2 linked regions of the Homo sapiens genome follow. The protein of the gene in region 2 interacts with the protein of the main gene of each other region in a pairwise test. Each region holds a gene or a part of one and is shown on either strand. Other genes may lie near its edges. The genes, in order: CD53 and CD302.

Region 1 (3,500 bases), on a different chromosome or scaffold from region 2:
CAGCTTTGGTGCTACATAGACCATTACGCTTATGAGATATTAGTAAGTGCTCCTCAAACAAAAGCCAAGATAAAGAAAAAAAAACAGTGTAAGAGAAAAACCTGTTATATGCTAATGTGCACTGTGAGTCTCTAAGACAAAAATATGTTTATATAACTACAAACCTAGTTTTATGTTGCAGATCACTTATTAACAGGTCAAATAACATAGTATTCTGTGGAACACAGTTTGATAAACACTAGCTTTGGAATCAGACAGGTCTAGTTTTGAATTCTGTTAGTGCTACTTATCAGAAGTGTGACCTTGGGCAACTTGCTTAACCTGTCTTTCACTATATCTTTGAAATAGGGTTATTAATACTTACCTCAGAGGTTGTTCTGAGGGCTAAATGAGATACTATTTCCAGGATGGCTCAGTCCCTGTGTATCTGCCTTATTCAGTGAAAACTCACTGAAAGATCAAGTTCAGACCTTACCTACCAGTCCATTCCTAAGGGTAACCCTTAGCTTCTAACAGATTTTTAGGAATAAAACATACACGGGGCAAGAATAATCCCTTGCTTGTTTCATACGTTTTAAAAAGAGGTTTCGTGTGCCATTTGTAAAAAAAATAAAAAAACAAAAAGAAATCAAACAATAAAGAAAAGCACATGTTTTTTTTCCATTTGTACCTATTAGAACAAATTGAAAATGTTAAATTTCAGTAATAAAAGATAAATAAATAAATGCAAGTACAGTTTCTGTAAGACTTCCTTTCAGTGAAGAAAAGCGTTTAATAGAAAAACACCTTTGTATGCTAAGATTGAGAATACGTTATTAGAACACATTTCTTTCTCCACTGAACTCTGTTAAGACATGTTGGAAAATCCCAGCAATAAAAGGCAAATGTAAGCACAGTTTCTTTAAGATGCATAAATTGTTTTCTTTCAGTGAATGGAAGTGTTTGGTAGAGAAACACCTTTGTAAGCTAAGATTGAGAATATATATTATTAGAACACATTTCTTACTCCATTCAAACCTATTAGAAAAAGTTGAAAAATCCAGCAATAGAAAGCAAATGTAAGCATGCTTTCTTTAAAAAAAAATTCTACATTTAAAAAATAAAGAAAAGTATAAAGAAGAAAGCATAAAATCTTCTGAAATCCCACCTCCCAGAGATAACCATCATTAGCATTTTGGCAAACGTCTTTCCAGACACTTCTCCATATACATTTCTCTATATACAGATTGTCAATTTACATACAAGAGCATTCGCAAGGTAATTACGGCTCCCTATCCCTTCCTACACAGAGCCTGTGGCAGTCTTTGTTCCTTAGCAAAGACAATTGAGGCTGTGATTAAGAAAAAGTTTTTCTAAATAGGAGCGAAAATCTGCCCCAGTGAGGGCTCCCAAATGTAGGCCTTGCTCAAACAAACTGAGATACATAATAGATAGTTCACTGAATCCCACAAAATAACTAAGTTCCTCATAAATGTCTTATTTATAATCCTCAAATCGGCCTGACAACTTAGGTGTCATTAGCCCCATTCTGCAAATAGAGAAGCCGAGGACTGGCACAAGGTCACCCAGCTAAGAATCATCAAAGGCAGGGTGAAGGCCAAGTTCTTTCAGCCTCCAAAGCCCATGCTCTTTCCACCGTCCCAGGCTCTGGTTTTGTGCCTATTACTTCCCAACTCATTTGGTGCAATGTGTTGAGCATCCAGGAGAAGACCTTCCATTTTTCATCAGCTCGTTTGAACTCCTGTGAGCAGTGGCTGAGGTGCAATCAAAGTTATCGCTGTACGTCCTTTTGAAGAGTAATAAGCAGTTGTAGAGGAAGAAGTAGGGGTAAAATAAAACGAAGCCAAAGCATCAACTCTCATGTATTCGTGTCCATTCATCTCTCCATCAACTAATCAAGGAATATCTGTTATCTTATTCCTTCCTAAAATTGTAATCTGATAAAAATTTTGTTTCTTCTAGGTCGCTGTTAGGGGAGAGGATTTGGCGATTTATAGAAGAAGAGAGAAATAAGGAAGAAGAAAAGAGGAGAGAAAAAGTGAAGAAAGACAAATCCAGATGATCTTGGAAGCTCACTTCCTCCCATGTGGGAGCTTAGCAAGATACTAATAACAGCTGAGGTGGGACAGGGACTCTTCTAATAAGCTTACTTCGTAAATCAGGAACAGTTACCTAAAACAGTTAGCACTGTTACAGAGTCAAGAGACCAGAGGTTCTCCGTCCTCCTAGGTAGAAATATGCAGAACTTTACATACGGGGTCCCTCGGCTAGAGGCCTGTCCATGGTGTCTGCAGGCTGGCTATGCTCAGATTAAGCAAGACTCTTTGTGGGATAAGAAAAGCCACTTTGTTGGTATTCCTATCAAAAATTTAAATAACCTGAATCTAATCATGAGGAAACATCAGATAAACCCAAATGGAGAAACATTCTAAAAAAGAACTGACCTTACTCTTCAAGAATATCAATGGCAAGAAAAATTCAGGAAGTGTTCCAGACTAAAGGAGACAAAAGTGACAGTTGAAGGCAATGCGTGACTAGAAATTTCCTTTTGCTATAAAGAATATTAAAGAGGTAATTGGTGGAATCTGAATAAAGTACATAGATTGTTAATTATATTGCATAAGTGTTAATTTCCTGGTTTTGATCATTGTAAAGTAGTTATATAAGAGAATGCATTTGTTTGTAGAAATATACACTAACATTCTTAGGGGAAAGGGCATCAATCAAATTACTAATTACTGTCAAATGAGAGAGCCAGAGAATAAACAAATGAAGTAAAATGTTAATATTTTGGAAATCTGGGTGAAAAGGATTTAGAAATTTTTCATAATATTTTTTCAACCTTTTTATCAGTCTGAATTTTGTCATTTTTTTAAAGGGATGGGAAATAAATAAATGATCTAAGGGATTCTCATCTCAAAATCATTACAATTTGTCTTCTATGTTATAAATACTGAGATTCTACAATAGTTATTTTAAGAAGACTAAACTATGGAATAATTCTTGAATGCCTTTATTTGCTCCTGATATAAGGTAAGCCATAAGTTCAAATTTACTTTAACAAGTAAACTTTAACAAGTTTTAAAAGATATGAGGCATTAAAATCATTTCTTACCCCTATTCCTCAATCTAGTTCTCCTGAAATAGAAAAGGCCAAACAAAAAGGTTTGGAAAATAAAATATATGTTAAGTATTTAGTTTGCTAGCATAGTAGCTTAAGATCAATTACATTTACAATTAAGTGGTATTTTTATGTTTGCTTATGTTAAAATGCACTAGGAATTTATGTAAATGAAGAATACAGTCTAATGATGCTTACTTAATAAAAAATCTCTTAGAAAAGGGACTATAGTATAATGTAGAAGAAAGAGCATGCCATAGAGAATCAGAAGACATTCTGAATAACTATTAAGTAATTTTATGATTTTTGGACAAGTCATTTTACCTGAAAAGTAAGCAGATTGGACAGTTGCGACAGCTCCTATTTATTGGCTCTCATT
Region 2 (4,038 bases):
TGAATGCATTGTGTTTATTCATCTGTCTTGCTTGTTGCTTCTCTTACCAGGGGAAAGAAGCTCCATAACAGAGATTTTACCATCTTGTGGATTTTTGTTTTGTTTTGATTTGTGTCTCTGCACTTTATTCTAAGTTATAATAAAAGGATGAAAAAATTTAGGTGAGTTATTTAAAAAGTAGGTAGGATAAGTGGATTGCAATTTTTTTCAAATTATATTACCTCTGCTATGCACTCATTTCATAATGAATTCAAAGCCTTAAATCATCTTAATCTATTGCTGCCACCTTTTCTTTCTTTCTTTTTTTTTTTTTCCGAGATGGAGTCTCACTCTGTCACCCAGGCTGGAGTGCGGTGGCGCAATCTCGGCTCACAGCAACCTCTACCTTCTGGGTTCAAGCAATTCTCCTGCCTCAGCCTCCCGAGTAGCTGGGATTACAGGCATGCGCCACCATGCCTGGCTAACTTTTGTATTTTTAGTAGAGATGGGGTTTCACCATGTTGGCCAGGCTGGTCTCAAACTCCTGGCCTCGTGATCTGCCCACCTCGGCCTCCCAAAGTGCTGGGATTACAGGTGTGAGCCACCGTGCCCGGCCTGATGCCACCTTTTCTGACTCTTGTGTATGGCACAGTTATGTTTCAGGGGAAATTATCTCAGATTAAATATTAGAGTATTTTAAAATAAATTTTGAGCTGGGCGTGGTGGCTCACGCCTGTAATCCCAGCACTTTGGGAGGCCGAGGCGGGTGGATCACGAGGTCAGGAGATCGAGACCATCCTGGCTAACACGGTGAAACCCTGTCTCTACTAAAAATACAAAAAATTAGCCGGGCGTGGTGGCAGGCACCTGTGGTCCCAGCTACTCAGGAGGCTGAGGCAGGAGAATGGCGTGAACCCAGGAGACAGAGCTTGCAGTGAGCTGAGATCGCGCCACTGCACTCCAGCCTGGGCGACAGAGCGAGACTCAGTCTCAAAATAAATAAATGAATAAATAAATAAATAAATAAATAAATAAATTAATTAATTTTGAAATGTTAATGTTTATTTTTCTTCCAATGAAAAAGTGAAATTTCAATTAGGTATTATTTCAGGACTTCTTTTACTGTTGAGAATCTTTTAACAATTTGCTTATGTGTTGAAAACTAGTTTTGCAGCAAGGTTACTTTCCATAATTTTTATTGTGCATATCAAGTATTTCATTCCTTCTGTGGGTTATTTAGTGTTTTTTTTTTTATTATTTTATTTTATTTTATTTTATTTTATTTTATTGTTTTGAGACAGGGCCTCACTCTGTCACCCAGGCTAGAGTGCAGTGGTGCAATCATGGCTCACTACAGCCTTGACCTGCTGGGCTCAAGTGATCCTCCCACCTCAGCCCCCTGAGTAGCTGGGACTACAGGTGCATGCCACCATGCCCTGCTAATTTTTTTTTTTTTTTTTTGTAGAGGTGGGGTCTCACTTTGTTGCCCAGGCTAGTCCCAAACTCCTGAGCTCAAGTGATCCTCCTACCTCAGCCTTCCAAAGCTCTGGGATTACAGGTGTGAACTGCCACGCCTGGCCTATTTTAGATTTTGAGAGCAAATCTTGAGACCAAATCTTTAAAAAATAGACCAGTGATGCCCAAAGAGAAAGGTACAGATTAACAATGGCACACCCCTTCTATGAATATACATTATAACAGCCCTTCTGAAGAGGGAAGTGATGGGACAATATGGAGATGGATGTCTTGAAAGCTAGATTGGGAAGAGTGATATGGAGAGGGGATGAGGTGTCAGAGTGCCTCAATTTATTTGGGATTCAGAGAGATCTTGAAGCTCAGAGTACAGCCACAGAATCTCTGGATTAGTCAGGGACTTGGAACAGCCACTCCCTCCTCCATACATTATAAATGTAATAAATAGCCCCTCTTCTTCATCTGTCTGTGCCACAGTTGCCCTTGCGGAAGTTATGTGACTACAACTCATATCTTAATGGGAGAGGAGCAAAGGTCTTATTATTGACAATGAAAATGAAAAAGAAGTCTTTCCCTTTTCCTTTGTTAACATTTAGAACAAGTATGTCCCAAGAATCACTTCCTCATGCTGTGCCTGTTTTTTTTTTCTTTTTTTAAAAAAAAGAGAGACAGAGAACTTATAAAGGAACAGAGAGTTCTATTAGATTTGACTGGTAATGCAAAGTATTCCTGTGGATATGACATTATCTTCTTTTAGCACATGATAATTTTAGGCAGAGGATCTATATAGAAACTTTTGGAGTTATGCTAAGTACAGCTTTTAAAATATTCATGAGGCTCCTGAATTTCTGTACGTATTAAAGAATTATAAAATTATAAAATCCCTAAGAGTCATTTAAGTGCATTATTAATAACAACCTATCATTCAGGACTGCTGTGAAGAAATAAGAGTAATAGGCCCTTTGCAGAGAGCTTAGTGGGCAGGTTTTTAATTATATTAGGATTATGGCAAAGATACTTAGCGTTGAAGACGACTTAGTTTAGTCTTTTGTTCATGAGGTGCATGAACGTCAACAATCTCCTCACAGGAGTTATCCAGCCTCTATTTGAGCACTGTTCTTCTCAAAGTAAAAATATATCTTTTGAGTAGTGCTTAAAACTTGTTTCTGGGGCACACACTCTGATCGGGGATCTATAGCATGAGAAAAGGGGTTCCATGTTGAATTAACTGGAGTTACTGCTAATGCTGAAATGAGCCTAAGGAGAAGGCAGTTGAAAGTTTTGGGGAAGTGAGTCAACAGTCTGTTTTCTATTTTTCTATACATACCCTGTTAAAAAAAAATTTTTTTTTGGTCTTGTCACATGCAGATGCTCCTCGACTTAGAATGGGGCTATATCCCAATAAACTTGTGAAGTCAAAAAATCGTAAGTTGTCCATTATTAAGTTCGGGACCATTTCTGTATTGCTAACTTAGTTATTCAGCAATGGTCTTTGAGTAGCTGGTTATCATTATCATCATCATAGTCATTCCCATACTGTGCAACACAGTAGCATTGTGTTTGCTCCTCCCTCTGTTTGCCTGAAATATCCATGTGACTTCTTTCCCTATCTTTTCAGACACACACACACACACACACACACACACACACACACACACACACAGAGTTGGTTCTCTGTTTCTCTGGAGAACCCTGACTAATACAATAACCAATAAGATAGTATGGAAATAAGACAGTGTGACAATCAAGGCTGGATTGTATGAAGCATTGCATATCCACCTTTGCCCTCCTTTGAATCACTCACTCTGGGGGAAGCTACCTGCCATGTCATAAGGACCCTCAAGCACCCCTGTGTAGAAGTCCACGTGGTGAGGAACTGTGGTGTCCTGCCCACAGCCAGCACCAGCTCACCACCCATATGAGTGAGGCTTCTTGAAGCTGACCTTTCAGCTCCAGTTCAGTGTTTAGATGGCTGCAGCCCTAGCCAGCATCTTCACTGTAACTTCATGGAGACCCCAAGCCAGAATCACCCAGACAAGCAACTGCTTCAGAATTCCTGACCCAGAGAAACTGTATATAATAAGTGTTTCTTGTTTTAAGCTGCTAATTTTTTACATAGCAATAGACCACAATACACCATCTAACATATTATTTTATGTATTTGTCTTCCTTTTGCATAACTGCGTCAACTAGAACATAAATTTCCAGGAGGGCAGGAATTTCTTTTCCTTTTTGTTCACTGTGGAATCTCAAGCACCTTGCACAATTTTTTAACAGCACCCCCTCAGATAGGTACTGTTATTCCCATTATACAGATGAGGAAACTGGGACACAGTAAGGTTAAATAACATGTCCACGATTGTGTAGTCAGAGCCAGACTTTTCTCCACAGTCTAATGGGCTTAACCAGAGTCCTGTATTGACCCACTTCTATGCATCCCTTCCAGTGTTATGTTCAAGACAGAAGGATAGTTATTATTGAGAGTAGTTAGATCTCAGACATGGTCTCTGCTGTCGTGGCGTTAACAATCATTTGGGAAAACAGGATGCATATCAGATAGCCGCTATATAAAGAAGGATCTAATGA

What was found.
Region 1: the proteins of CD302 (region 2) and CD53 interact in binary tests that used the Homo sapiens proteins (3 or more experiments, as listed by UniProt).

Annotation. Positions count from the first base shown.
Region 1 is NC_000001.11:110,876,148-110,879,647, reverse strand, and holds part of CD53 (leukocyte surface antigen CD53), read right to left. Parts: exon of another isoform or gene 2,014-3,500; coding exon of another isoform or gene 1,963-2,013; intron 1-1,962. UniProt on the Homo sapiens protein: Structural component of specialized membrane microdomains known as tetraspanin-enriched microdomains (TERMs), which act as platforms for receptor clustering and signaling.
Region 2 is NC_000002.12:159,791,500-159,795,537, reverse strand, and holds part of CD302 (CD302 antigen isoform 1 precursor), read left to right. Parts: exon of another isoform or gene 1-348; intron 349-4,038.